7 separate regions of the Homo sapiens genome follow, and all the other regions are reported to be linked to region 1. Evidence: microRNA targets listed by miRTarBase, many of them from high-throughput screens and not tested one by one. Region 1 holds a microRNA gene; each other region holds the end of a gene's coding sequence. Distances are from middle to middle.

Region 1 (4,247 bases):
CACTGTCATCTCTCAAGTACCCATCTTGGAGGGTACGGACCCCACATGAGGGTGAGGCTCTCTGCACACTCCAGAGTGAGGACTTTAATAATCTAGTGGACTGTACATGTTGGGAGGGGAAGAGCGGGGTGCCGAGGGTCTGGAGGGAGAAGAATTGACTGCCCCTTTTGCTCTTGGAGTTAAGCAGAAATCTAAAGAGAAGGCAAAGAATCTTGCCTTCCTGGCATCATTTCCTCCTACCATCCCAGGCCATCATTTATTTATTACAGCCAACAGACTGGCCTCTTTCTTCCCTTTGACTGGGAATGGGTCAAAGGCGGTGCAGGAGGAGGATCTGGTCCAGATAATTCACAAGCAGGGTGCATTTTCCTCTCATTATTGAGAACTGTGAGTGTTTATCAAGAAGGCAGAGCAGGAGAAGATGAACCAGTCTTCTTCCCCTCACTACCCAGATCTCTGCCTGCCAACAAGCCCCGTGTTCACCCTGGCAAAGAGTCTTTACATTCAGACCAAGGAGAGTGTGACTCCTTCTCAGCACTAGCTAGAAACCTCAAGCCCTTGCTTAAGGGCCTTTTTCAGAGAGACCCAATGCCCAGAAGGCTAGATGCGTGGGGAGGAGCCACATACGAGAAACTGCCTCCCTGCTTCGGGTCAGAACAAGCCCCAGGAAGAAAGTATTTCAAACAACAAGGTGCATCTGCCCCAACCCATCCAGCCTGCATGTTGGTGCTGAGAACAGCCTTTTATGGGGCTTGCACTGAGCCATGGGCATGTCTGAACACAACAAGGAAGAGGCCAGAGCAGCAACAGCACGCAAAGGGTTGATGGGCATTTCTTTTAAGACAGAGCAGAAAACTCTTAGATACTTTGCGTCCTTCCTATTTGACTCAGTCTATGAAAGCCAGGTTAGCTTGCTTTCTTCCTCCCTAAATCCTCCATCCTCATGACCAACAAAGAAATAGTTGAATCATTTTCCAGGCACATCTTGGGGAGGATGTGGGGCCATTGGAGGCTGTCCTTCCTAGATAAGTCTTTAGGAGTGAGAACAAGGAGTCTTACCCTCCTCTGTCCACCCACCCCCATGAATGGGCCTGGCTCCAGCCAGGAGTTGTGGTTTTTCCTGAGCTCCTCACCTATCTCTTCTGGATTTCACATTGGCAAACGGGGTTGCAAAGTGCTCTTCGTGCTCTTTGGACAGTGCCTTGTGGAGAGGAATGCCCATGCCCCTGCATTCCAAGGCCTTGGTAAGCAAGCTCAGAGTAGCTGGATTTTTCTAAAGCAATTGCAGAACACCTGCTTTTTCTTTGTTTCCTCTAGAAAGGACCAACCACACCGAGCTCAGTTATGGCACACACAGTGGGACCTAGACAAAGGGAGAGGGTGACCGACATCCCAACTAGGTAAACACAGAGGAGGTTCCACATGGACTTATCTGGGTGGCTGTTTTGAAAACGAGAAACAGTCAAGAGTCCCTGGCCCCACAGACCCACCTCCCCAACTCAGCACTGTCTGTCTGTGCAGCAGGTGCAAGGACGTGTTGAACTAGCTCTCTGCAGCCTCCTTGGAGGATGTGATCCTATGGGAGGGGTAGGAGTATTCAGGTCCTTGACATCTCCCAAATGTGTGATTCCGGGATGCCAAAGGCCTTTGGCCAGGTAATGCAGTGTCTACAGGCTGAGGTTGACATGCATCCCCACCCTCTGAGAAAAAGATCCTCAGACAATCCATGTGCTTCTCTTGTCCTTCATTCCACCGGAGTCTGTCTCATACCCAACCAGATTTCAGTGGAGTGAAGTTCAGGAGGCATGGAGCTGACAACCATGAGGCCTCGGCAGCCACCGCCACCACCGCCGCCGCCACCACCGTAGCAGCAGCAGCAGCAGCAGCAGCAGCAGCAGCAGCAGCAAGAGTAACTCTGACTTAGGAATAGAGACAGCCAGAGAGAAATGTGATCAATGAAGGAGACATCTGGAGTGTGCGTGCTTCTTCAGAGGGACGGGTGATGGGCAGATTGGAAAAAGCACCGCAGATGGGAACCTTAATCTTTCTTTTCTAAAATTGATGCTATGAAAATTTGCGTTTTCTGTAACTTGTAAAAACTAAAAGTTGCTTGTCTACTGAAAAGCCTCTCTGCCTCTATGTTTTATACCATCGGATGCCAACTCCCGGCCTTCTAAGCCACCTCCCCTTTAGGCTAAAACTGAGACATGAACTTGAAAAATTGACACTGGCTTCCTCTCTCTTTAGGGTCCCCAGGCAGGTGGCTGGGACACTATTTGCAATCAGCAAGGAACCCTGCTGCCCTTAGACTCCCCACAGAGCAAGCAGAACTTGCAGAATGGGGTAAAAACACTCTATTAAAGATTTTTTAAACCTATTTATATTGTAATAAAGTAAATGTAAATAAAATTTAAGTGAAGGCAGATTGCAGATATTTCCGATGCTATACAAGATATATCTCATAGTATGGGTGTAGATTCTGCAAAGGTTAATGCAGTTAAACATATTTGACACATAAAAATGTCAGATCCAACATTAATCATTCACCAATTGTAATTGCCTTTCTATGGGTCTCTTCTCCCCAAGACATAGCTTAAAACACCAGGCTCGGTAGAAATCTGGGAGGAAAAAAGCAAATAATACCTCTCAGCTGTCAGGGTCTATGATACGCTTTGATAGATTTAGCACTGATTTCATTCTCTTTACAATTCAGTGTGATTGGGTGTGCGTGTGTGTGTGTGTGTGTGTGTGTGTGTGTGTGTGTGTTACTCCATGTTTCTCCTTTTTAAGGAAGGAGAAGGTGTGGAACAAGAGAAAGTTCCTAAGTCTGAAGGAAGTCCAACCCAGTTATGAAGGGAATGCCATCCACAAGCCTTTTTTATAATTGGCCCCTGCCTCAGGTAAAGGGGTCTCCTTTAAGGAGCCAGTCTGGCTAAATTGGCAGATTCTGAACAAAGCCTGGCCCTGACAAGTCTTCAGAAAAACCGGTTTTCACCTCCAGAATGTGCCCCAGGCAGCAAAATACAATAGCTCTCCTTGGCTGAGTGGTGTTTTTCTTAGGAGCTCACTCTAAAGGAGATTCCAGCTTTGCAGATGGATACCGATCACTTGAATGGCCAAGCCCTGCCCCCCAGCCAGTGACCTCTGAGGGGGATAGGTCTCTTCACCTTCCCCCAACCCTTCCCTGGTTTTTGACCCCTGAGGGTCCCAGATTGCCAGCAGGAACTAAAAGGAATAAACCTTTCTCCAAAATATTTTTCTGTGTCAAGTTAATACAGATTTAAAACCTAGTTTCTGTCACCCCCACCCCTTCATTCCAAGACCCACAGGCAACAAAAGGATGAAGAAGCCAAGCCACAGGCATTTTTTAAAAACATGTTTACTCATAAAAATTGCGTAGCAAATCCAACTGTGGGGTGCTGTTTGTCCAGCAAACTCCTAGTTAACCAGCAAACACCTCCCATTCAAGGTCTGAAACAAGCCCTGAGATCAGAACAAAAAGCACACGACAGACACGATGTGGCACTTTTATTTGCAGCTTGGTTTGAGCCCTATGACCTGGAATCTTTTTATAGGAGATAAGTGCTTGTGTATTTATGTGCCACCTGGCCCAGGTGGAGGCAGGAACCAAAATGGCCAACAATGGTGACCAGAGGGTAGACTGTCAAACACTAGCCAGGGCACAATGCTGTGACTACAAAAGGTTCTACCTGATGTGCTGTTGGGTTCCCCCACACCCAAAGTCCCATGCAAATGCTATCTTCACAAGAGAGGCACAGGGCTTGGTATTTCTGGCACCAAGGTCTGAACTGCCCACTTCCTCCCACCAATGCAGCACAGATTGCTTATTCCCTCTTGCAGAAAAAGAAAGCCCCAAGCCTGGCCCAGAGCAGCTTGCCAGGGAAGCCAGTGTGTGCCCAGAGCTGGAGCAAGCTGCTCATCCATCTTCTATGTCCAACCCCCACTCTTTTATGTCTCATGTCTTCATTGCAAAGCATGACTCGCCAAAAACACAACACAGAGAAAATGGTTTCATCAAAATTCCCTTGCAACAACAACAACAACAAAATAATATTACCCTGCTTTCATTATTCACAATCTTTTATTGAGGCAAAAGGCAAATATCATTGAGCCAAACCTGGATAGACAAATATATACAACCACTGGTAATTTAATATTTTGTGCTAATGGTATACACTGTAGATACAACCCAAGAGGAGTAAATTACAATCCTATCAATAATATAT
Region 2 (4,247 bases), 120 Mb from region 1:
GAGACTGAGCACTTCAGACACTGTACTGAGATGCATTTCTGGTCTAAATCTTTGTAGAAATGAGTGCTTGAGCCTGTTTGTGTCGGTATGCCTCTGAGAAGTCTTCCCTCTTATATGTCTCTAGTTTTTGGAATGGAGCCTCGCATCCTATACAACCCTTTACAAGGCCAGAAATGTATTGTTCAAACAACTTCATGGTCCCAGTGCTCAAAGACCTGTGGAACTGGTATCTCCACACGAGTTACCAATGACAACCCTGAGTGCCGCCTTGTGAAAGAAACCCGGATTTGTGAGGTGCGGCCTTGTGGACAGCCAGTGTACAGCAGCCTGAAAGTAAGTTCCTTCAGGGACGTGTAGACTGTTGCCTGGCAGGTGGGTGGGATGTGAACATCTTTTTGAAGAAAGAGAAATATCACCCCTAACTTTCCTTCTCTCCTTTCTCTTACAGAAGGGCAAGAAATGCAGCAAGACCAAGAAATCCCCCGAACCAGTCAGGTTTACTTACGCTGGATGTTTGAGTGTGAAGAAATACCGGCCCAAGTACTGCGGTTCCTGCGTGGACGGCCGATGCTGCACGCCCCAGCTGACCAGGACTGTGAAGATGCGGTTCCGCTGCGAAGATGGGGAGACATTTTCCAAGAACGTCATGATGATCCAGTCCTGCAAATGCAACTACAACTGCCCGCATGCCAATGAAGCAGCGTTTCCCTTCTACAGGCTGTTCAATGACATTCACAAATTTAGGGACTAAATGCTACCTGGGTTTCCAGGGCACACCTAGACAAACAAGGGAGAAGAGTGTCAGAATCAGAATCATGGAGAAAATGGGCGGGGGTGGTGTGGGTGATGGGACTCATTGTAGAAAGGAAGCCTTGCTCATTCTTGAGGAGCATTAAGGTATTTCGAAACTGCCAAGGGTGCTGGTGCGGATGGACACTAATGCAGCCACGATTGGAGAATACTTTGCTTCATAGTATTGGAGCACATGTTACTGCTTCATTTTGGAGCTTGTGGAGTTGATGACTTTCTGTTTTCTGTTTGTAAATTATTTGCTAAGCATATTTTCTCTAGGCTTTTTTCCTTTTGGGGTTCTACAGTCGTAAAAGAGATAATAAGATTAGTTGGACAGTTTAAAGCTTTTATTCGTCCTTTGACAAAAGTAAATGGGAGGGCATTCCATCCCTTCCTGAAGGGGGACACTCCATGAGTGTCTGTGAGAGGCAGCTATCTGCACTCTAAACTGCAAACAGAAATCAGGTGTTTTAAGACTGAATGTTTTATTTATCAAAATGTAGCTTTTGGGGAGGGAGGGGAAATGTAATACTGGAATAATTTGTAAATGATTTTAATTTTATATTCAGTGAAAAGATTTTATTTATGGAATTAACCATTTAATAAAGAAATATTTACCTAATATCTGAGTGTATGCCATTCGGTATTTTTAGAGGTGCTCCAAAGTCATTAGGAACAACCTAGCTCACGTACTCAATTATTCAAACAGGACTTATTGGGATACAGCAGTGAATTAAGCTATTAAAATAAGATAATGATTGCTTTTATACCTTCAGTAGAGAAAAGTCTTTGCATATAAAGTAATGTTTAAAAAACATGTATTGAACACGACATTGTATGAAGCACAATAAAGATTCTGAAGCTAAATTTGTGATTTAAGAAAACAGCGCTTCATGTTCATCAGAATATAAAGCCTAAGGGTCTCCATCACTCTGTGAGATGGCTATAATAATTTATTATTTTAATCACCAGGTTAGTGGGCATGCCACTTTAGTAGAGTAGAGAAACCCTTTAATGAAAAGGGGTAGTCCATAACTCAGGCTGCCCACATCCAGACCCATGGGCAAGATTGAATATAATTAATGTATTCTAAAGACTTGCTTGTTTATAACTTTATATTTTCCCAATACCGTTCCTAAAAATTAGAACTACTTAGAAATTTACCCTTGGCTGTTATGAGGAAAAATCTGAGTCTATAGGAGTCAGTTTGTTTTCACTAAATGAGCTTGAAGCATGACTTGTGTTAATCCTAATAAGCCGGTGATTAGGTAAACATGCTGTTAAATGCAAAGGAATGCAAGGAATTTCAACTACTTTTCCAATAGCGTGAGGGCCAAGCTACCCCATCCCCCTTTCCTTTTTATAATATACGTTATATTGATGGGGGAGGGAGCAGTTATATAGAGTTGGCTATTCAGAAGGTCAAAGGTCCAGAGCATTCCTAAAAGAAAGGGACCCAAATCATAGGTCTAGGAGAGGTTGAGAAGGCTGTGTCAATGTTTGTGAAAATGTCAGTAGTCTGTTTCAGAAGCATCTTCATCTTTAGAAAGCGCTGACAATAAACCTTTTATAGGGAGAAGTTTTCCTTTCATCATCACTGTTGGCTCCTGTTCAAATCCATAGTGAAATATTTCAGTCCGCACTTAGTTAAGAGAGTACTTGAGTTTTTAGGCAGAAGAGAAAGTGCTTTTAAAAGGAATGGAGGAGGACAGCTCCTGGGATCCTGAAGGGATTTTTCCAAGTAGATTAAATAAGATCCATACTTTAATGAAGACCCACAGAAAAATACTGCCTAAGAAATGGTTTTAAAGCCTTATGGAAATGCATAGAGGTTAATATAAATGCACTAGTAAAATCTATGGCCAAAAGCCTTCACTTCTGATTTTGACTTGCCTGAAATATTACAGCTTGTGCCTTCTGAATAGTCAGGTTTCTTGCCTGAGACATTCAAATGTTAAGGTATTTGAGAATTTAAACATCAGCTGGCCCAGTCGTGGATGCAGTTAAACTTGTCAGTGCAATGTAACGTGTGAAACATAATAAAGGTGTGAGGCTTTTGTGGTGCAATCTTGTTGAACAGACATCTAAATCCATAGGCAAGATTTACACATTCCCAAGCATCAACCCTGAAGTATTGCTCTCCAACACTGGAGTCCAACAAATTGCTTCTTATGCAGAGATCAAGGAGCAATATTTTACAGATCCTTTCAGTGTGCAGGGAAGTAGTATTTGTCCAAATAAGCTCAAATGTGAAACAGAACCTAGTATGGGAAAACACTGAATCTTTGGGTTATTAATTTCATCCTAGTAAATATAATGAGGGTGATTGAAAGTGCCAATTCCATTTACAATAAGTGTGTTCAATTAATAAAGAAGATGAATACAAGCAAATTATGTCTTTTGTTTAGCTATAGAAAAACCTGAAGAAATTAAAAGTAGTGGAGAATAAAATTATGATATTTAGAACACGTAAGTTTTACCTACATCCAGAATGGAGCTCTGCCCACTTTAAATATTGAGAAAACAAACCAAAAATTATGCATCTGCATATATGAAATAGAAGTTACATATAGAAATATTCATTATAATATATATGTACCTTCCCATGCACAGTAAAGACCTTGGGTTGTTCTTGCTTTTCAATCCAAAAGATCCTGGTGGTCTTGAGCTATTTTTTGGTAGAGATTTTAGAACTGAGAGAGTGATCTCAGAATCTTAGGCATTCCACGAATTTTAAGAAATACTCTATGGGACATTGAGCAGCACAGCAAGTAGTCTCACTATGACTATTTTTTCATATGAACATATGTGTTGTCTGCTCCACAAAGAGATGCAACTGAGTCAAAATTAGCAAAGCATATTTTAGAGTTATGTTTTCCAACAGAGGGAACAGACTTGGTTTGTTCACAACCTCTTCTTGCAGCCTTCTGGCACTACTTGAAAGTCAGTTGAGCAATAGCAGTGGTTCAGTATGACCACAGTACAGAGCAAAGCTATGCTCTGGGCAGAATGGCAGGTGATACAGTGGAAAGAATCCCATGGAATCATGTCTTTTAGCACCAGCTCTGCCATGAATTCACTAGGTGACTCTGGGCAAGTTTCTGTTTCACTCCCTCATGTTAAAGTAGGAAAATAGCTTTCAGCATTTTTGTCACCCCAAAAACCCTTTCTCATACACCCACTTCGGTACATTGGCTCTCATACCTTAAAACTTTTATCTCCTCAAGTAACCACATGTGTGAACTGAAAACTGCTCAAGGCTTTCTGTCATCAAATGCACTTGTTTCCATGAAGCGTTTGAAAATGTATTGTGGCTAGACCCCTTCCCCCCCCTTTACTTTCTAAAGCACCCTTGGTTAGAGGACACAGCAATTCCTGGATCTCAGAGTCTACAGGTCCATACTTTAACCTCACTGTATAGCCCTATCCAGGCCTCATTAACTCCTTGCCCTACA
Region 3 (4,247 bases), not on the chromosome of region 1:
ATTCCTGAAATCCAAGGGCTCATTTTTTGTCCATGTTTCCTCAGATGATGATCATGCTGGGAGCCATCTGTGCCATCATCGTGGTAGTTATTGTAAGTAAGTATCGCTGAAGTTGCTGGTGGGGTGAAGAGGTGGGAAGGTCCTGGAGTCTTCTCCCTGCCTGCCTGCCTGCCTGGGGAGTGGGGCTGCTCTGACTGAGGTATGGAGACCGCTGCTATGGGATCGTCACCTGGTTCGGGACGGGGGAAGGGCAGAGACAAGGGATTTCTTTGATGGACAAGCCTTCCCCCTGCAACGCATTGCAGGGAGATGGCGCCTCCTGTTCTGAGGAAGTGGGGCTATGCTGTGTGTCACTGGCTTGGGTTGGAGGGAGACCATGGGGATGGGGCACTTAACAATGGAGAGACCTGAATGTCTGGTAACTTGGTGTAATTCACCCTCTTGTTTTCTCCTGTCTCTTTCTCTTTTCCGTCTGGGACTTCCTGATTCCTGTGTCCAGTCTACTTTTTTACTTGAGAATGTACCACCCCTTCCCTGTTGTCCATTGCCATCCACATTCATGTCCTCTGCCCTCTGTTTGCTCTCTCAACACACTTCCCCACCCACCGTCCTCCATTCCAGCCCAGGCTTCTCCATCACCCATTCCTCCTTTTTCGTTGCGTTCATTTGCACTCTGTCCCTCAACACTAGAAATGCTGCTCGTGGCACAATCTAAGTCATTACCCGAAGAGCAACAGCTGGCGCCTCCTCCCTGCCTGCTTTTTCTGTACTCTCAAGTTCCCCCAAAGCCCCAAAGAGTTGGAGGCCAAGGGAAGGGGCAGGGAGGGGAGTGGCTGAGGCGAAGTACCCATGAAGCTGCCCAGACTTGGGAGGAGAAGAGTATCGGTGCCCATGGTGACTTCTAGAAAACCTGGCCACTGGTAGGAGCTAGGGAGGGGCTGGGAAGATGGCAGCTCACTCAGTACTGCCTGGTCATGTGGAGCTTTCCTTCCTGGACCAGGCCTGAAGAGGGTCCTGGGGGTGGACCAAAGTCCAACTTGGTTTCAGTGCAGTACCCTTTTCGAAAGTAAAAACTTGTTTTTTGTAGTTATTTCTAATCTGTTCGTCCAGGATTTTCCGTGTCTTTGGGGATCTTACAACTTTACTTTGTTCTCCAGAGGCCTGGAGAACACTTAGGGATTGTGAAAATAGCAGGACTTGTTTCCATCCTAGAAGCAGTCCCATGTGCTTCTAGCTGGAAGGAGCTTTCTCTTCTTTACATTTTCTACAGCATTCTGTATGAGGGCACCAAATAAATCCATCTAGCTGGTAGTTTTATCTAGCCAAATAATTTAACCTAGCTCCCAGTTAATTGTTGGCATAAAGAGAGAGATTGCCTGTTAGTTATAGAGAAACAGTGAGTCAAGTGCTTAATTTGAAAGTAACAAGCTCAGAGGAAGCCACTCCTTGCCCTCGTTAAAGAGGGTCCTGTTCCTCTCTTCCTGTTGATGAAGGAGCGTGAGGGTGTTAGCAGTGTGAGATCTTTGGACACCCATGGAATCCTTTCCTCCACACCACCCGTGCACTTGCCAAAGACAGGGATGAGGCAAGTGGTTCTTCCTGGGGCCCGGCCGATCCTCAGGATGCAGAGAAGTCATGTAGACCCACCAGCCCCACCTTGGGGGGAGGCGTGCCAGCCTGTGTCAGGTGTGCTTGTGTATTGCTGTGCTGTCATGGGGCCCTCTCCTTGAGAGCCGCCTCTCTGTTCTTCCTGTAGTATATTCCCCTTTGAACCACCCTTTCCTGTCTGAATTCTACTTTGCCTCCTTTCTCTTCCTCCTCTTTGCATGGTTTGTGTGTATAGACAGTGGAACCTGAGGATGGGATCTGCTCAGCCTATCTTCGGGGCAATTGCTGAGCTTCAGGATGGGCTATTAATGTGGGATAAGCCCAGGTGCAAGGGGAGGAGGGCAGGCTGGGAACAGAGCGGAGAATGCCCATGGCCCTTTATTCCTTCTTCCCTCGGTCCACGAACAGGAAGAGGCTGAGGCCATGCTGGGCAGGGTCTGGATGCCCACTTTCCATGCAGCAGCATTTCATTGCTCAAAACCATCCTTCCTTTCCTTTCGCCCTTGTTTCCCACATTCCCTTCGTCCTGCCCAAGGGCGGGACTGAAGAGCTGGAAGAAAGCAGTCAGTACCCTCCCAACGGCCCCCCTCGAAGGTCTCCACTCTCCTCTGGGCTCCTCCTTGCCTAATGCAGGGGGTCACCGCTGGAGAAGAACCACCACTGTCCTCGATGTGTCCCAAGCCTGGAGCGAATCCGTCCTCTTGGCTCTCCCAGCCCTATCACAGGAATCATTCCTGGGTTTCTGTCCCTCTGAGGCTCACCAGGTGTAGTTGGCCTTGTTCTTTGGGGGTATTAGCCCTTCTACTTTCTTTCTCACCCACCCTGTACCCTCTTCTGTGTGTCTCTGCTATCCCCCTTTCCTCCCACCACCCATGTGCATGAGCAAATGTGCAACAAAACCCTGGGACTTTGCAGTCAAATGAAGCTGAGCTTCCCACATCCCGTTCTTCGGTTTGCCATGAGACGATGTGGGGTTTCCACTGTGTGTCTGTCATCACCTCTTTGTCTTTTTTTCCTAACCCTGATCTCATACTTGTATAGAGTAATAACAACAGTTGTACTTCCACCAAAGGCATGTGGCATATTTACCAATGTCATGTATTCTGAACAAAGGCAAAAAATACAAATTCCTACCATTAAACTGGCTTGGTTGTTGTTTGGGTTGGAGTAGCTGTGGGGGCTTGGGGAAGGGTGTCGTTTCTTTCTAGTAGTCTCATGTCGCTTTAGGTCAGCTGGGCTGGCTTACACGCGCTGTGCGGTCTTCATGGAGATGGGAGCTCTGTGTGTCAGCACAGGAAGTGGTCTCCCAGCGTTCAGCCTGAAGCAGCCCAAGTCCTGTAGGTGCTGGTAAGAGGAAGTGAAGACAGGAAGTTGCGTGGGCATCTCACACTGGCAAACAAGCACAGGTTCCCTCAGGCCTCTTCCATCTGCCTCCTGTGCTCCTTCCTAGGTCCTTGGCCTGCTTGTCCTGTCCCAGGGGATGTGCCCAGATAAGGCTGTCAGTGAACACCCCCTTACCCCCTTTTCCCCATCATCCTCACGTACAGTTTTGGTATGCTGAGTTCCACCGTATTGATTAGGCACATTTTAGAAACGAATAAAAAGGAGAAGTCTCTCCTTGCAGCTGAGGGAGTGAGGCATTTGCAGGTATCCTGAACCTCCCAGCAGTCACCCGAGGGAGCAGAACCCTAATTGCAGCTGAGGTGCAACTGAGATGGAGCCACGGGGGTGCCTCTGAGGGCCTTTGTTTCATACTTAAACACTTTGCAAGTTGGAGCCGCTAGGCTTGGTGACAGGGCTCAGTTGGGACCAGTGTGGAGAAAGACAGGAAAGTGGAAAAGCTTGGTCGCAGCAGACACAAGGGCCTTTTATTTTGACAGAGCTGAGTTTGGGAGGGGTAGCCCAGCCCCAACCCATGCCTCATTGTCCCTCACTTGTTCCTTCTCCATTTCCTCCAGCTTTGTTTTCCTACCGTCACACCACCAACCTGGCTCTTTGGTCTTATCCTCCATCTGGACATTCTGCCTTCTTCTTGTCCCCTCACTTCTTCCTGTTCTCTGCCTTGGTGCATGAGCCCAGGGTGCACAGTGAAGGAAGGCAGAGGCCTCTGCAGAGCCAGGCCCAGTGCCCCATGAGCTGGTGCCACCTTCATGTATTTTTAGCTCTGTGACTTGACTTAGAGTCCTTCTGGGAGCACGTGACTACTCTTTCTTTCTACTCTGAGGCAGGAGAGTGACAGACTTTAGTGAGGTAGCTAGGAGAAAACGAGGGAACACGACTGGTTTCATTTTCATTTAGGGCAAACTCAAAAGCAGGAGGCTGTGATGGGTGGGTGGCTGGAGCTTGGGGCATCTGGGCTTCCACCCTGGTCTGGGCGGGGGGGTGGTTAGAGTGGGTGAGGTGGGCCAGGGCCAGAGCCAAGGGCACCCAGGCTCTTACCTTGCCGTCTCTGAAGCCCCAGGAACATCAGTGCAAGAAGGAAGAGACTGCTGGCAAAGATGACTCCCAAGGCTGTTCTCCGCTCTGTAGGTGAGAGCAACGTGGGCGGGGATCATCGTGCGCAGGAATCATGAGCTGAGCCCTCACCTGCAGTGTCCACCCCAGGGAGGAGGAGCTAAGGATTGTGTGTGTGAGTCCCT
Region 4 (4,000 bases), not on the chromosome of region 1:
TTACAGATTTTTCCCTCCATCTTCTGTTATAATTTTTAGGTGCTTCAGAACTGGGCCCTTTTTCAGACCCCAGGCAGTTCCCAAGCATTTCATCCCTCACTGAGAGCCGCTTCTCCAACCCACGAATGCACTATCCAGCCACCTTTACTTACACCCCGCCAGTCACCTCAGGCATGTCCCTCGGTATGTCCGCCACCACTCACTACCACACCTACCTGCCACCACCCTACCCCGGCTCTTCCCAAAGCCAGAGTGGACCCTTCCAGACCAGCAGCACTCCATATCTCTACTATGGCACTTCGTCAGGATCCTATCAGTTTCCCATGGTGCCGGGGGGAGACCGGTCTCCTTCCAGAATGCTTCCGCCATGCACCACCACCTCGAATGGCAGCACGCTATTAAATCCAAATTTGCCTAACCAGAATGATGGTGTTGACGCTGATGGAAGCCACAGCAGTTCCCCAACTGTTTTGAATTCTAGTGGCAGAATGGATGAATCTGTTTGGCGACCATATTGAAATTCCTCAGCAGTGGCCCAGTGGTATCTGGGGGCCACATCCCACACGTATCAATATATACATATATAGAGAGAGTGCATATATATGTATATCGATTAGCTATCTACAAAGTGCCTATTTTTTAGAAGATTTTTCATTCACTCACTCAGTCATGATCTTGCAGCCATAAGAGGGTAGATATTGAGAAGCAGAAGGCTCAAGAGAGACAATTGCAATCGAGCTTCAGATTGTTTACTATTTAAGATGTACTTTTACAAAGGAACAAAGAAGGGAAAAGGTATTTTTGTTTTTGTTGTTTGGTCTGTTATCATCAATAACCTGTTCATATGCCAATTCAGAGAGGTGGACTCCAGGTTCAGGAGGGAGAAGAGCAAAGCCGCTTCCTCTCTGTGCTTTGAAACTTCACACCCTCACGGTGGCAGCTGTGTATGGACCAGTGCCCTCCGCAGACAGCTCACAAAACCAGTTGAGGTGCACTAAAGGGACATGAGGTAGAATGGATGCTTCCATCACAGTACCATCATTCAGAATAACTCTTCCAATTTCTGCTTTCAGACATGCTGCAGGTCCTCATCTGAACTGTTGGGTTCGTTTTTTTTTTTTTTTTTCCTGCTCCAAGAAAGTGACTTCAAAAATAACTGATCAGGATAGATTATTTTATTTTACTTTTTAACACTCCTTCTCCCCTTTTCCCACTGAACCAAAAAGAAATCCCATCCCTAAAACCTGCCTTCTCCTTTTATGCAAAACTGAAAATGGCAATACATTATTATAGCCATAATGGTATAGATAGTGATTGCGTTTGGCTATGTGTTGTTTTCTTTTTTTTTAAATTATGAATATGTGTAAAATCTGAGGTAACTTGCTAACGTGAATGGTCATATAACTTTAAAGATATATTTATAATTATTTAATGACATTTGGACCCTTGAAACATTTCTTAGTGTATTGATATGTTGACTTCGGTCTCTAAAAGTGCTCTTTATTAAATAACAAATTTCTTCAGTGGTCTAGAGCCATATCTGAAATATTGCTAAGCAATTTCAGTTCATCCAGGCACAATGTGATTTTAAAAAATACTTCCATCTCCAAATATTTTAGATATAGATTGTTTTTGTGATGTATGAAGGAAATGTTATGTTTAGTTCTTTCAGATCTTTGAATGCCTCTAACACAGCTTTGCCTTCTAAAGCGGTAATTAGGGATTTAAAAAACAACCTTTAGCCCTTTATCAGCATGAAATGCTGGAGTGATGTGGTTTTCTAATTTCTTTGGGGTAATTATGACTCTTGTCATATTAAAAAGACAAGCACAAGTAAATCATTGAACTACAGAAAAATGTTCTGTGGTTTCATAGTTAAGCAAAACTCTAAATCGCCAGGCTTCATAGCAAAGACATAGTCAGCTAAAAGCCGCACATGTGGATAGAGGGTTCAATTATGAGACACCTAGTACAGGAGAGCAAAATTGCACCAGAGATTCTTAACCAACCAGCCTTACCAAACAACACAACAGGGGAACCCCAATCTGCCTTACCCAAGGCCCCACTGGCAGCTTTCCACAGAATTTGCATTTAGAGGAGCAGAATGACATCACTGTCCTTTGGGAGTAGGTCCTCTGAAAAGGCAGCAGGTTCCAGCAGGTAGCTGAGCTGAGAGGACATATGGCCCACGGGGACCTACAGACAGCCTTTGACATTTGTATTTCTTACAATGGAGGGCCAAGGAGGGCAAGGGGCTGTGGAGTTTGGTGTCTACTAGTGTGTATGAATTTGAGCTAGAGTCCTTCTGTGGCATGCACTTTGACCACTCCTGGCAGTCACATGGCAGATTTCCAAGTGCAAATCCTTAATCCAAACAAGGATCATCTAATGACACCACCAGGCCAATCCCTGCTCTCCTCCCCGAAAAGTCAGGGTCCCTTCATTGGAATCCTCCACCCACCCAAGCAGAATTTAGCAGAGATTTGCCTTCAAACCCTAACGGCCCCCTTGTTCTCTGGTCCTTCTCAAACCCACCTTTGTAGGCCACCCAGCATTGCAGGACAGCGTGTGGGGCAGCTGGACCTGTGCTTCCTGCCTGGGAGTCTCCCTTGGAATTCATCCTGACTCCTTCTAATAAAAATGGATGGGAAAGCAAAACACTTTGCCTTCTAAAGGCCGTATACCAAGTATGCTTAGATAAATAAGCCACTTTTCTATTACTTAAGTAAGAAGGAAGTAGTAATTGATACTATTTATTGTTTGTGTGTGGTAGCTTGAAGCACACCACTGTCCATTTATTTGTAAGTGTAAAATATGTGTGTTTGTTTCAGCAGCACTTAAAAAAGCCAGTGTCTGGTTACACATTTCAATTTTAATTAATTGACATAAAAATGCTACCGCCAGTGCCAGCTGCATCCTATTTAATTAAAAAGGTACTATATTTGTACATTATTTTTTAATGTTAAAAGGGCTTTTTTAAGTTTACAGTACACATACCGAGTGACTTTAGGGATGCTTTTGTGTTGAAATGTTACTATAGTGGCTGCAGGCAGCAACCCAGAAACACTTTAGAAGCTTTTTTTCCTTGGGAAAAATTCAAGCACTTCTTCCCTCCACCCTCACTCCAACCACCCCAATGGGGGTAATTCACATTTCTTAGAACAAATTCTGCCCTTTTTTGGTCTAGGGATTAAAATTTTGTTTTTCTTTCTTTCTTTTTTTTTTTTTTTCACTGAACCCTTAATTTGCACTGGGTCATGTGTTTGATTTGTGATTTCAAGACCAAAGCAAAGTCTTACTACTACTGTGGAACCATGTACTAGTTCCTGGGAATTAAAATAGCGTGGTTCTCTTTGTAGCACAAACATTGCTGGAATTTGCAGTCTTTTCAATGCAGCCACATTTTTATCCATTTCAGTTGTCTCACAAATTTTAACCCATATCAGAGTTCCAGAACAGGTACCACAGCTTTGGTTTTAGATTAGTGGAATAACATTCAGCCCAGAACTGAGAAACTCAACAGATTAACTATCGTTTGCTCTTTAGACGGTCTCACTGCCTCTCACTTGCCAGAGCCCTTTCAAAATGAGCAGAGAAGTCCACACCATTAGGGACCATCTGTGATAAATTCAGAAGGGAGGAGATGTGTGTACAGCTTTAAGGATTCCCTCAATTCCGAGGAAAGGGACTGGCCCAGAATCCAGGTTAATACATGGAAACACGAAGCATTAGCAAAAGTAATAATTATACCTATGGTATTTGAAAGAACAATAATAAAAGACACTTCTTCCAAACCTTGAATTTGTTGTTTTTAGAAAACGAATGCATTTAAAAATATTTTCTATGTGAGAATTTTTTAGATGTGTGTTTACTTCATGTTTACAAATAACTGTTTGCTTTTTAATGCAGTACTTTGAAATATATCAGCCAAAACCATAACTTACAATAATTTCTTAGGTATTCTGAATAAAATTCCATTTCTTTTGGATATGCTTTACCA
Region 5 (4,000 bases), not on the chromosome of region 1:
ATGTGGACTATAAGTAATATTTAAAACTAGGGATGGCGTATTCATTACACAGAGTGGACTAGCTCCCCTTTTGACTGTCACGTGTCTGTGATTCTGAAGAGTAGCACTCTGCTCCAGATGTTTCACAACAGGCTTTTTATAAATGTTTATTGAATTTTTGAGTAATTACTGTGTATTTAGCACTGTGCTTATCTTCACAGAGAAAAGAATGTTACCATCCTTTCCTTCTGATCTAGAGGGGGTTATCAGACTATTAGACATGAAACAATAGTGGAGAACCCCAAATAGTTCACAATCCAATGCAATGTTTTACTGAGAGCAAGTTCAGAGATGTGAGATTGGATTAGGCATGGGTAAAGGTTTGGTTAAGCAGAGTGGTGAGCAAGGTTCCCTATGTGGGAACATTTAGGAACAGACAGGACTGTGCTCATGAACTTGTGGAATAAGACACCAGTCCAGAACAGAGGGTGTATATTAAAGAATAATGTTGAAGAGATCTGACCAACCTAATGTAAAGCCAAATAAGCCAACTTTCCCATCAATGTAAAAAATTCTTGGAAATTTTTTTCAACAGAAAAAACAACCAGAGTATCCTGTGGATGCCGCATGCTCCTCTGATGAGCTGGCCATAAGTTTAATTCCTGATGTTTTTCCAGCCTCATCAGAGAGCTTAGTAGACAAGCATAAGGAAAAGAGAAAGGGCTGTATTCCAGTTCCAGGCAGGTGACTGTATGACCTCAGGCATATTTGTACTTAACTCTCAGAGTCTTGATTTTATTGTTTACTATGAGGATAAGCATACCAACCTTACTTGGCTTTTGCAAAATTCAGATGAGACAATACATGTGAAGGTGGCTAGAACGTAATAGGCATTCAACAAATGTTGATCCCTTTTTTTTCTCAAAGTGGCTCTCATTCTGATCCACAAAAGGGCAAGTTAAAAGGGTTGAATCCTACCAGGCTCACAAGGTTAAATAATTTCTGATGTATACTGATGTAATCCATATATGCAATGTTACTTTTTCAGTCATATGTAACTTCTCAAGTTACACAGGTTACATGGCATTATTCATTGTATTTAGTTCAGTAAGTAGGCGGGAGAGAAAACTGTTGTATTTTCAGGATAAATGCTTTATGTATGCTAAAATTTAGAGGTCCAAACACTACTACAACTAAATGTTCTTTTACAAGGTTGATAATTACTTTGAAATTAAAGTAAAACTAAAATGCCTTACACTTTTTCTTCCAGCATGCTACAAGTGAAAACTGATGAGAAACTGAATGTGTCTGATGAGAATACAGCAAGTTGCCCTTTGAGCCCCATTAAGATGTGCCTTAATCGTCCCATTGAATGGAATCTGAATTTGACAACAGCATCTCTAACGAGCTGTACAGTTCATAACCAAAATCTCAAAAGCGAAGAGAAATAGATTGCAGTTCTTCTTGCACTATCTTTATTTTGTATGTCAGTATTCCTTCTGAACAATAAGCATTTATCAATTGATCTTGAAGTATTTCTAGTCCTGTGATTTGTCTTTATATTAAATCATTAGCATTAATCATTTTGATTATATTCTTTATATGTTTTTTTTACATGTTTTACATCAGATCATTGTGGAATTTTGTAAACGGATTTTGATGTTTCTCTTTTAGTGGTATTATGTGAATTTTTTATGCCCTAAGTTTAAATACGTAATTGTCCCTAGTTTTATTTCTGTGCACAAAGTTTTAATATATAACACATTGTGATTTATAAAGCTAGTATTGTAAAGATTTGTGATGATAACCTGACCCATGAGCAGTTGTAAAACAGGTGGATACCAACTACCTCGAAGCAAATTGGTGAAAGAAAAGGCAAAGGTATCTCTTAGAAGTAAATCTCCTTCAACGTTATATATGTACAGAAGAAAAAAAGTTGATCATAGCTTTTTGTCAAGTAGCATGTTTCCCATTCACAGGAAAATGTGAGCTTATCAGTTCTTTCTCTGTATTTTAAATCTAAGTCTGTGGGCTTTAAGAGCAATGGCACAATTGCATGTTTACTGTTCAGCAAATCTGTGCCTCTTGATAGAGAAAAATACTATGTGGTTTCTGTAAGTTACCAGTTTTGAATGAAAAATGGTAAATGGATTTACATCTGTTTTATTGTACCTTAGCCTTTTATTTTAAAGTTAAAGGGATGACTTTTAAAAGCAGGACATTCCCTACCTTTAATAGTGCAAAGCACAGTTTCAGCAATGGCTACATGACTATGTCTAAAAACTGAATACTCAGAATACTAAAGGTTTGGTGCTTAAATTTATTTTTCCCATGCCAGAGAAAGCAAGCTTTGGTATGGTAAACCACATGAGAACATGGCTCCTTTCTTTTTGGATAGCCTGGCCATGTGTGAATGGGATTTTAGCTTATTATGTTTCTAAGACTTTTCCTTACAGCACACTTAATGTACCTTTTCAGTCCTTCTCCCAACCCCCTGCAAATTGTCTTTAAAACAACAACACATAAGGAATCTGAAGCACAGGAGAACACAGAGCCAACAAACAGAATGAAGAACAATCATCTATTTTTAACTGACTTTCTATCATTACCATTTTTCCTTTTGCTTAATAACTATCTTGCTTTGAAACTTTGACTCCTTTTATAAGTTCTATGAGGCACATATGTATAGCAATTTGGTTCTAAAAACCAGTGATCTTACTTTAGCTCCATCTTAAAATTTCACCTTAAGTAAATGGCCTCTAGTAGATGATAAGCCTAAAAAAAGCACAATTATTAAAACAAACAGATCCATGTTAGGACATTTCTGAATAATAAAGAGAAAAGGTGTTTCGTTGGGTATTGCAGAAAAGAGGACCAATTTCATATAGTACAAGTTTCGTAAGTCAGGCCAAGTGTCAATTTCAAAAGACAAGAAATGAAATTGACAGTGAATAGTGCTCATAAATTGGTAGCGTATATAAAGAGAAGTTCCTGTCACATTATATTCCCACTAGAATTATTATCCACAGTAAATAAATATTATTTTGTTATGCCAAAAATATAGCGAGCAGCTTCATGGTTAATAATACATTTATGTTGACACCTCCCTAATCCAGGAAACATTCACAAACAAGGACTCCCATATACAAATACTTTAGGAAGAGAGATTTCCCAGGCAGATATCACCAAAAATGTTTTCACTGTAGGAATCACAAAATAAGTTTTTGTCAAAATAACTGTTGTTGAACGTTATACTGGTCTTCCTCACTGGTGATTGATAAGCTCCTTTCTAGCCAGTTTGTGGTACTTCCTTCATTTTCCCTAGAAATGTTACTTGTTAAATGTGTCCTCAGGCGGTTTCATCTTTGTTGATTCTGCCCATCTAAGTCATAAGCTTCTCAAATGCAAGCTACTAGCTAGTTACACTTGTAAGTTTTCCATAATGACATGATTTTAAACATAAAGAGTTCATAAGAATCACTTGGAGAGACTATTTAAAAATGAGATTCCTAGGCCCACCTCAGATTGTGATAAATCTGTGTGACTGACTGATGCACACTTTTTCTGGACTATAATAACTGATGCTGCTCTACTGCTTTAATACAGGCCAAAGTAACGTGGAAGCGCACAGCAGAAAATCTTCAGAAAGACATCAGGTTTGTTCTGATTTTGACAAGGGTAACTTCTTCTTTATTAAAGCAAATAACTGGACATAATCTTAAAGGATTCCACCTCCATCGTCTTTCCTAACTTAGATCTTCATTGAGAAATTGGGCAAGGTTAAGTTTACTTTTTTCTAGTGCTGCGGTTTTGGCTCGTCTTGGTAGTCTCATCTTCATTTCTGATTCTGGTTCTGGAACTTCATGATCACTAAATAGATGTTGAAAATACACGAATTTAGATACAAGCTTTAAAACCAGTTTATTTATAAATAAAACTTTTTTGTTTCTGACTCACATTCTATCAGTGTTTAATTGATAGCCTGATTCCATTGACTTAGCTTAAAACTAAAATCTCAATG
Region 6 (4,247 bases), not on the chromosome of region 1:
CTGAGGGAAGCTGGCAGAATCTGTCAGACAAGGGAGCCTCCCACAATTCCAGGAATACCACTTATTCTGGGATGGAAGGGACAAACCCTTAAATTAAGAGGATGGAGAAGTCAGCCTGTATCATCTCTAGAACACTCCTGAGAGATCTGCCAGGCTTGATGGAAGTCCCATTGGTTGGAAGCCCAGCAGGGAGCAGACACTTGCGAAGTCCTCGAGTGTGGTTAGTGAGAGAGCTGGCATTTGAGCCCAGTCTCATATTCCAATCTCCATTATTTCCCACCAGCCTTGATAGGGCCTCCTATAGCCTTTCTGCAATTCCTCAGGTCACGTCTTTCCAACCTTACTTTGGACAGTCCCCACATTTGGAGGTTTCCTCTGCTCTTCCCTGCTCTCGCCCCGGTCACTCTGGGATGGTGATTTGAATGTGAGACACAGGTGGTCTCTATCCTCTATAGACTCAGTACATGGTCAATATATGATTCAGAAAAGGGTTAGAGGCCAGGTGTGGTTGCTCACGCCTGTAATCCTAGCTCTTTGAGAGGCCATGGTGGGCAGATTGCTTGAGGTCAGGAGTTCGAGATCAGCCTGGCCAACATGGTGAAATCCCGTCTCTACTAAAAACGCAAAAATCAGCTGGGTGTGGTGGTGCGTGCCTGTAGTCCCAGCTACTCAGGAGGCTGAGGTAGGAGGATCACTTGAACCCAGGAAGGGGAGGCTGCAGTGAGCCAAGATAGCACCACTCCACTCCAGTTTGGATGACTCTACATTGACTTGTTATGTTTTTGTGAGCTCACTTACCATCTTCCTCTACAAGTTCTGCAAGTACACTGAGTGTGTGTGTGTGTGTGTGTGGTGGGGAGGTGGGGTTCAGAGGGTAGGAGCAAGGGAAGGAGCTCAAGTTGAGTTTTTACCAAAGAGGCATATGTTTTAGGTAGCCTGAGTTCCCAGTTAGATAAATTATTTATTTTACTTGCATAGATATCATTTTACTCATGGAGTATCATTTGCTCATAACATTCCCAGGGGCTGGTTAACCCTCAAGAGTAACAGAATTTAGTTTTAAACTTCCTGGGTTGCCTACTCCCTACATATCTATCAGTTGAGTTATTAATGATTATTCTCTTTTTTTGTTTGTTTGGTTACATTATTCATTTAAATGATGTACCCCTTGTGTCTTTAGGTGTTGGCTTTCTTAGCATTGCTTGACAGAGACTGAGATTAGAAACCACTCACAGTGCAAAAGTCAGGTACCTCTGCTCAGAGAACAGTTGGTGAAAAATGAAAATGGAATCTTTCTCGAGTTAGAATGTGAGATGGCAAAAAAATTGCTTAGTTAACACACAGTTGGGTTGCATATACCTTTTCAAGAATGCATGAGTTGGTTTAAGCAAGATTCATTTGTCCTATGCAGTTAGTGTGTGACTCAAATGCCAGCCATTTCCCTGTTTTTTTAGCCTTGAGTCTCAAAGTCTGTTTTGTTTTTTACCACAGACCATTTGGCTTGCTGAATTCAACACCTCTTCCAATGCCTGCTTCTCCCAAAGAATCTACTCACAGAAAGAGTTAAAGAGAAATGTAGACTTTACTAAATATTTCATAGAGGAGACCTAGGAGGAGGTTGACACAGCACACTGCTCAGCAGATGACTTAAAATTTTCCCTTAGCCATTTTTGTTCTCTCAAGTCCCTTTCATCCATACCACCACTGCTGATTTGTTCTTTCTTTTTTTCTTTTAAATCTTTTCTAGCTTTCCTTCTGACAAACTTTGCTGGAGTCCTACTCCTTTTCTCTCCTTCTTGAGAAAAATGCAAATTTTGCTCCATGTTTTGGTATAGCAGGGAAGCTTCCATCTTTTTTTACTGAAGCATAACATCAGGGCCTACATTCCATCTCAAACGGCTTGTCAAGGTCCTTCCACAAATAAGATGTTCCTCCAAAGATGATGTACAGATGCCAAGTTGGATATAGCTAGAGAAATCTCATGGCTACCCCAATCAGGAGAGAGGTTGCTGTTTCTCAGAAGTCCTCCTCCCCACTTCCAGGGTCATCATTGTCTCTCAACAACTTTGTGGGGATATAAAAACCCTCGCGGAACTGGTTTTCTGAGAGGTGTTTGAAGCAGGAATATATTATGCAGGGGATGGAGCAGCCATTCCCTGGCTAGATGACCACATCACTGTTGCACACTGATTGTTTGCTAAAGGCACAATGCTTTCCTGACCAGAAATGAAAAATGCCTGCTGCTCAATTATTGTCAATCTAACTGGAATAGAGTCAGGCCTCGTCAGATGGTTTCCCAAACACCCAGATGGTCTCTTAGATTCTGGATGGTCAGTGTGGTAGTTCTTTCCATTACATCCTTGAGATCCTGCTGTTCACACCATTCAGCAGGGCACCCTGAACCTTGTCCCCATATTCTGGCTCTGCTGAGATGAGATGCAGTCAGGTGTTACTAGTGTCTTCAATTATATACTGGGGTAGGGGGGCCTTATTTTGGTTGGAGAGCTTCCAAAATTGTGTCTGGAATCTCAGTTCCCAGGGTCTGGTCTTCTGAGATGGAAGAGGTTTTGAAGCAATTCAAACCCAGTCCTTTCATTTTCTAGACTTGGATCCTGAGTTCCAGGGAGGGGAAGGTATAGTGAATTCTTATAATTTTATGTTGCCTTGGCAACCATTTTGTATACAAGTTTAATTTCTCATACCAGAAGCCGGGCTTAGTCACCCTTGATATGGGTTTCTGGTTCTATACCACACCTCTGGCCAGAGACAAGAACTTAGAGGCATCTTTCCTGCCTAGCAGACTGGATTCCCCACTTCTCTGTTGCTTCCTTCAGACAGACCATTCAGGCATTTGCCAGTGAATTGAGAGTGACCACACCCTATTTCTTTACCTACATTGTTAACTGTCTTGCTGTCTCTGTCTGACTTCTTATTCCTGCCTCATGTAACCTAGAGAAGGAGGACTGCCCTTCAGACTCATTATGCCCTTTCTGTCCAGGATCTGTAAGTAAAAGTCTTTGAACTTGTTTTCCATTGTGGTGGTGTATTAAATTTGTGCTTTCCATCTCAGGAACAGGGGGCTGTCCCAGCCTGGTTTTCCCTGGGGGTTCCTAGGGGTGGGGTCATATGGAGTACAAGATCAGCCTCCTAGTGCCAGAGTGACAGTCAGACAGGCATAAACTGGGCATGGTTCAGTCACAAGTGTATCTGCCAGTATAGGGAAGTTTCCTGTGTGAGAGAGTCCTTGATCGCGACTTGGACAACTAAGTATTAGGCCATCTGCAGATAAAAGAAGTATCCCGTGAAGGGCACAGTGTAAACACTCACACCCAGCTCCCCTTCATTTCCCATTAGGGCAGAGTTGCTAGCTGCTCTGGTACTGGAGCCCCATTTTAACTGGAGGCTCTCAAAACAGAAGAAATAGATCAAGACCATACAGTGAATTAGAGGTTGGGCTGGGACATCCATTCATCCCTTCTGATTCTGTGTGGGGCTCTGCCCACCACACTACATTGCTTCCCTGCCTGCTATCTGAAAGATACTTCACTAAAAACTCTCTTTTTAACCCTGGAGCTGTATCTTTCCAAGAGACAGAAGGAGAAGTATACTATTTAATACCCTGTGTAGTTTGTCTTGGTCTAAAGTTTTCTTTTTGCCCAAGTGTTTGGAGGGATGAAATACTGTATGGTAGAGAGGCGCTTTCTTCCTGAAGGCCAAGAGAAACTGTTCAGTCTGAATTACTGTATAAGAAGATGGACAACACATTCTCAAGAGGAAAGGTGCTTGTATCTATGTACTGGAATGTATCCACATTGACTGATATGGTGGTGTTGACCTGCAGGTAATCCAGCAAGAATTGAGAGAGATTCTGGTATACGTGTTTCGTTTGCATTCCAGACTCACACACTGTCACCAGGGCCTGTTTTTTGATATGCTTGTTGATGAGAAGCTCCAACTTCAGATCGACAGAATTATTTGGGCATTGTACAAGAAACTGCAGTTGGCAAATGATGAAGTACAAACCAGGGAATTGGATCACCAGATTCCCATCCTGATATCTGACTCCATGGAGAATGCCATCTTTGTTCCAAGACAACTTGGTTTTGTTTAGATGCTTTGCCACTAGAAAGAGAAGTATAGAAAACAGAATTATTGAGAAGATTGTAGGTACGCATTGCAAAATTCTAAGTCTTTGTTCAAAGTTTCCCATTCAAGACCCATGTTTTCTGTAATGTTCCAATCATCTG
Region 7 (4,247 bases), not on the chromosome of region 1:
GAGGCCCTGCAGCAGGAACAGGTTGGGGTGGGGCAGGAGGGTAATGGGGAGGGGGCCCTGCAGCAGGAGCAGAGGTAGGGGTGTAGCGGAGTGGGGCAGTAATGGGGAAGAGGCCCTGCGGCAGGAACATAGGTGGGGGGTAGTGGAGGGGGGATCCCCAAAGTCAATGGGGACTTTGCTGCATACCTCCTTGTCCCAGAGGTTGTTCTGTATGTAATTTAAGGACTTCAAGATTATCATTGAAGAAATATTAACTGCTGCTTTTATAAATCTCATGTTTGACTTCACTTTTGGTTGTAGCAGGGGTTGTGAAAATAAGAAATAAATATTATCCTTTTCTTTGGATGAAACGAATAATTTACTTCTGTTGTCTTTCAATGTCTTAATTAAGAAGCCAACACACAATGAGATGAGAGAGTGATGAGCCGCTGGTTTTGTTCTCCCTCAGGATCACAGACTGTGCCGTGGAGCCCTTAAAGGCTGAGCTCGCGGAGCTGGAGCAGCTGATCAAAGACCAGCAAGACAAGATCTGTGCTGTGAAGGCCAACATCCTCAAGAATGAAGAAAAAATCCAGAAAATGGTATATAGTATCAATTTGACTTCGAGAAGGTGAACACTCAAAAGTTTCAGAGATGAAAAGTCACCTCAGTTTAAAAGCAAAAAGGAAGATAGAAAATCATTACTCTTTTAAGTTCCAGTTTGCTAAGAAAATGAACAGTTTACAATGTTATTATCCAGCTAATTTTCAGAGCTTTAAAACTGTAAGCATGTTAAGTGTATTAAAAAAACCATGTTTTCTTACCTCCTTCCAGATGGAATACTGGCTAGTTATAAATAGCGCTTCCAAACACCTCTGTGAAAAGTTTTTTTGAAAGCCTGTTCTTTGTGTTTCTGCTGTAACCTGTTTAGTTCTGTACCAGAACTCTCTAGCAGGTAAGTGGTGTGGGCATACCAAGGGAACAGTAGTCCTTTATTTTGGTTTAGTGGAAAGACTTTCAGAGGTCAGTGCCGAATGAAGGATGACTGTGTACTTTTTGATAGGCACTTGATAAGTAGAATGAGGCCTGAAAATGAATACATTATATTTTTAGTTAATTTCCAATGGAAAGGGCTAACCTCAGCCTGTCTCCATATCAGGTACCTATCAACTGGATTGTTTTCATTTTTGTTTTTTGACCTCTTTGTAATTGCATGTACTTCTCTATGTAATTTTCCTCTTGATCTCTACTATCGTTTGCTTGTGTTTCTAGTCCTTAAAGTTCATAAATTTAAAAAGGAGATTTCAGGATGGCCTTTATGGACGTTGTCTGGACATACATCCTCACTTTCTTCCGCAGTTTACCCTGGTTTTCCTCAGACAGAGGCTAGCGCAGCCCCCCGGAGTCCTTGTTCTCCTTAAGAGGGTCTCGCTCTGCAAAGCATTGGCGCCATGGCTTTTCCTTTGCATGGGTGTGCATACCGAGAGACAGGCAGCTTAGGAAAAACAACATAAGGAAGACTTAAAAGGATGCACTGATTTACGACGTTTTTTGATGTTAGCCATTTTTTTGGAAATTGTTTTTTAAAGCAAAAGTTTTTTAAAAACATGGTTTATAGTTTTTCACTTACATATACTATTGTAAATACTTAGCAGAGTCTTAAGTTACTGTATAAAACATTTCATTGTGTTTGAAGACATACTTATGGGTCTTGAGGTCTGGGTCCTAATACTTTTAAATAGTGTATTTATTATGTAAACTGAGGAGTGCCATTTAAAGTGTGAGGATTGCCTGAAAAGGTTTTGTTTCTTTCTTTTTTTTTTTTTTTTGAGATGGAGTCTTACTCTGTCGCCCAGGCTGGAGTGCAGTGGCGCAATCTCGGCTCACTGCAACCACCGCCTCCCGAGTTCAAGTGATTCTCCTGCCTCAGCCTCCTGAGTAACTGGGACTACAGGCGCACGCCACCATGCCCAGCTAATTTTTGTATTTTCAGTAGAGATGGGGTTTCACCGTGTTGACCAGGATGGTCTCCACCTCCTGACCTCGTGATCCGCCTGCCTCGGCCTCCCAAAGTGCTGGGATTACAGGCATGAGCCACTGCACCCGGCCAGGTTTTGTTTCTTTAAGGATTAGCACAAATGGCACCGTTGGGTTTTTCTTCATACAATTTCCAAAATAAATTCTGTACTCAGGTTGTTATATGATTTTCTGAGCTGAATAAGTTCAGGAGCAGATTATTAAGATCTGCCATTCTGAAACGCTGGTCTTTTTCTCCTTCCTATAGTGCACCATAAAATTCTGTTTGATCAGATTATATTACATACATTTTGGGGGAGTGGAGGGACATGAGTTAAGTAGCCCTTCATGTATTTATAATCTCTTTTCTACTGAATCAAATGACTTAGCCATGACCCTGAATGGACCTTGTTTTACTTCAAGTTGAGATGTCTGCCTTTTATGAATTTGTATATGTGAATAGAGTTTGGGGGTTGCCAAAAATTGCATACATTGTATGTAAGTAAAATTTTTTATGAAGTAGTCTGTCAAATTGTATCATAAAGTTTATTTTTCTTTTATACGTAAATCATTAAAAATAATCACATATTTTTTCCATAAGTGTATGGATTGTGCAGTTCGATTCACACATGGAAAAATCATAAGCATTTGGATTTTTTATTTTCAAATGTGTGTGTTTTGTTTTTCTCGTGAGGAAAGTTCAGGGAAATACATCTTTTCATTCATATTGTGACACATCTCTTTTCAGTATGAATTGAAGTTTTATAAGATAGGTAAGCATTTATCAGAAATTGTAAGATCATTTGTGAAGTTTTAGAAGGTCTCTACACGTGATTGTTACTGTATCTTATCCTACACACTAGATCCTGATCTTAATTTGAGAAATTTAATTTTTCTCTTATTTTGAGACAATACACAAATGGGATTATTAAGTATTTTTCTATACTTTGGTTTATAAGTTTTCAGGGAGTACTGGAGTCATACTTCAGGAATTTGAATTTAAAAGTTGAGCTGATGATAATTTATATTCAAAGGAAATGCATAATAGACCTTTGGAAGAAATAGTTCAAGACTAAAATGCAGCTTTCTACTTTGATATTCATCCTTATTTTTCTTTTTAATAATCAACTTTTAAAAACTGAAATCTATGAAGAAAAATGATGTCACTTGGTGACATGAAGTGCTACTTAGGATTTGGGTGATATGGAATTCTAGTCAGTGTATTAACGAGTGCCCCCGAACTATTCCGGTGCTAGTCTTCTGAGCTGCCCTGGACTGATGGGGTTTATCTTCTGTTGGTCGATGTGCACAGTGTCATGGCACACGAGTAAGAGAAAAGATGGCCAGGGCCTTTGAGCAGCTTTGGGATCAGTAGCCAGTGTGAGCCAGCAGCAAGCAGGATGAGCAGCCTGTTTGAGCTTCCGCAGGAACCTGCTTCAGAAGGAGGCCACGCCCAAGCAGGATCAAGGCTCAGCATGTCACCGTCAGGGAAGACACTAAACACCCAGACCTGGACTTGGCTCCCCACTCTGGACTCTTCTTTCCACACCCGAAAGTGCAGAGAGTAAATAACCTTGTTCATGGCGCCTCTACGTAGACCACTGTGGGCTCCTCTGAGGGGCTCTCCAGCAAAGACTAATGTAGCAAAGCAGAAGTAAGAAAAATTCTAAGTCAAGCATGAGCCAGCCTAAGTCGGAGGAGAAGGAATAGCTGTTCTCAGTGATTCTCAAATGTAACTACTTGCTACATTTGGGCTCTGAGTTTAACTCTATCATAGGATACACTTTATTAATAAAAATGTTTTATATTTTCCTAAAAGGTGTTTCAATAAGTATGGTTTATGCAAGCTTTACATTGGGGCATTAGTGAAGCCCCCTAGTCAGAACCCCTTTTTGATTATGTGTATTTTCATAAAGGGATATTGGGAGGGACTTTGGTTTCTTTTAAATTCAGCAAGAGAAATTTAAATGTCTTTTAAAGCTGTAGAACTTGACCGGGTGTGGTGGCTCACGCCTGTAATCCCAGCACTTTGGGAGGCCAAGGCAGGCAGATCACCTGAGGTCAGGAGTTCGAGACCAGCCTGGCCAACATGGTGAAACCCTGTCTCTGCTAAAAATAAAAAAAATTAGCCAGGCGTGGTGGTGGGTGCCTGTAATCCCAGCTACTTGGGAGGCTGAGGCAGAAGAATTGCTTGAACCAGGGAGGCAGAGGTTGCAGTGAGCCGAGATTGTGCCACTGTACTCCAGCCTGTG

What was found. Region 1 holds the annotated microRNA hsa-miR-205-5p (UCCUUCAUUCCACCGGAGUCUG, at 1,741-1,762, shown strand). A microRNA usually pairs through its seed, bases 2 to 8, with sites in the 3' UTR of a target mRNA and lowers its output. Matches are read on the target gene's strand: a 7mer-m8 pairs with bases 2 to 8, a 7mer-A1 pairs with bases 2 to 7 and ends in A, and an 8mer does both.
Region 2: miRTarBase lists CCN1 as a target of hsa-miR-205-5p. The part of its 3' UTR that is shown has no 7-base or 8-base seed match.
Region 3: the mRNA of VAMP1 is a reported target of hsa-miR-205-5p. Seed matches in the 3' UTR shown: 8mer at 1,488-1,495.
Region 4: the mRNA of RUNX2 is a reported target of hsa-miR-205-5p. Seed matches in the 3' UTR shown: 8mer at 1,642-1,649.
Region 5: the mRNA of NCAPG is a reported target of hsa-miR-205-5p. Seed matches in the 3' UTR shown: 8mer at 3,288-3,295.
Region 6: miRTarBase lists TNFSF8 as a target of hsa-miR-205-5p. Seed matches in the 3' UTR shown: 7mer-m8 at 3,338-3,344 and 7mer-A1 at 2,827-2,833.
Region 7: miRTarBase lists TRAF3IP1 as a target of hsa-miR-205-5p. Seed matches in the 3' UTR shown: 8mer at 1,014-1,021.

The regions. Positions count from the first base shown.
Region 1 is chr1:209,430,426-209,434,672 of GRCh38, forward strand. It overlaps MIR205 (microRNA 205), which reads left to right and starts at 1,708; the gene lies at 1,708-1,817. MIR205HG (MIR205 host gene) reads left to right here. Exons shown (of 4, transcript NR_145437.1): 3 at 1-51; 4 at 1,779-2,124. RefSeq lists enhancers at 2,549-3,146, 3,147-3,746.
Region 2 is chr1:85,582,292-85,586,538 of GRCh38, forward strand. It overlaps CCN1 (cellular communication network factor 1), which reads left to right. Exons shown (of 5, transcript NM_001554.5): 4 at 125-333; 5 at 449-1,659. The coding sequence ends at 751. Among named protein-coding and RNA genes, the nearest start is that of CCN1, 3.7 kb to the left of the region's middle. RefSeq lists an enhancer at 1-128.
Region 3 is chr12:6,460,739-6,464,985 of GRCh38, reverse strand. VAMP1 (vesicle associated membrane protein 1) reads left to right here. Exons shown (of 5, transcript NM_014231.5): 4 at 45-96; 5 at 500-2,749. The coding sequence ends at 516. It overlaps TAPBPL (TAP binding protein like), which reads right to left. Exons shown (of 7, transcript NM_018009.5): 6 at 4,048-4,131; 7 at 2,670-2,952. The coding sequence ends at 2,837. Among named protein-coding and RNA genes, the nearest start is that of VAMP1, 7.8 kb to the left of the region's middle.
Region 4 is chr6:45,546,788-45,550,787 of GRCh38, forward strand. RUNX2 (RUNX family transcription factor 2) reads left to right here. Exons shown (of 9, transcript NM_001024630.4): 9 at 40-4,000. The coding sequence ends at 518. Among named protein-coding and RNA genes, the nearest start is that of RUNX2-AS1, 28 kb to the right of the region's middle.
Region 5 is chr4:17,843,151-17,847,150 of GRCh38, reverse strand. NCAPG (non-SMC condensin I complex subunit G) reads right to left here. Exons shown (of 21, transcript NM_022346.5): 21 at 2,286-3,849. The coding sequence ends at 3,726. LCORL (ligand dependent nuclear receptor corepressor like) reads left to right here. Exons shown (of 8, transcript NM_001394446.1): 8 at 1,250-4,000. The coding sequence ends at 1,263. Among named protein-coding and RNA genes, the nearest start is that of NCAPG, 34 kb to the right of the region's middle.
Region 6 is chr9:114,900,204-114,904,450 of GRCh38, forward strand. It overlaps TNFSF8 (TNF superfamily member 8), which reads right to left. Exons shown (of 4, transcript NM_001244.4): 4 at 942-4,122. The coding sequence ends at 3,728. Among named protein-coding and RNA genes, the nearest start is that of TNFSF8, 28 kb to the right of the region's middle.
Region 7 is chr2:238,398,306-238,402,552 of GRCh38, forward strand. TRAF3IP1 (TRAF3 interacting protein 1) reads left to right here. Exons shown (of 17, transcript NM_015650.4): 17 at 449-2,592. The coding sequence ends at 614. Among named protein-coding and RNA genes, the nearest start is that of ASB1, 26 kb to the right of the region's middle.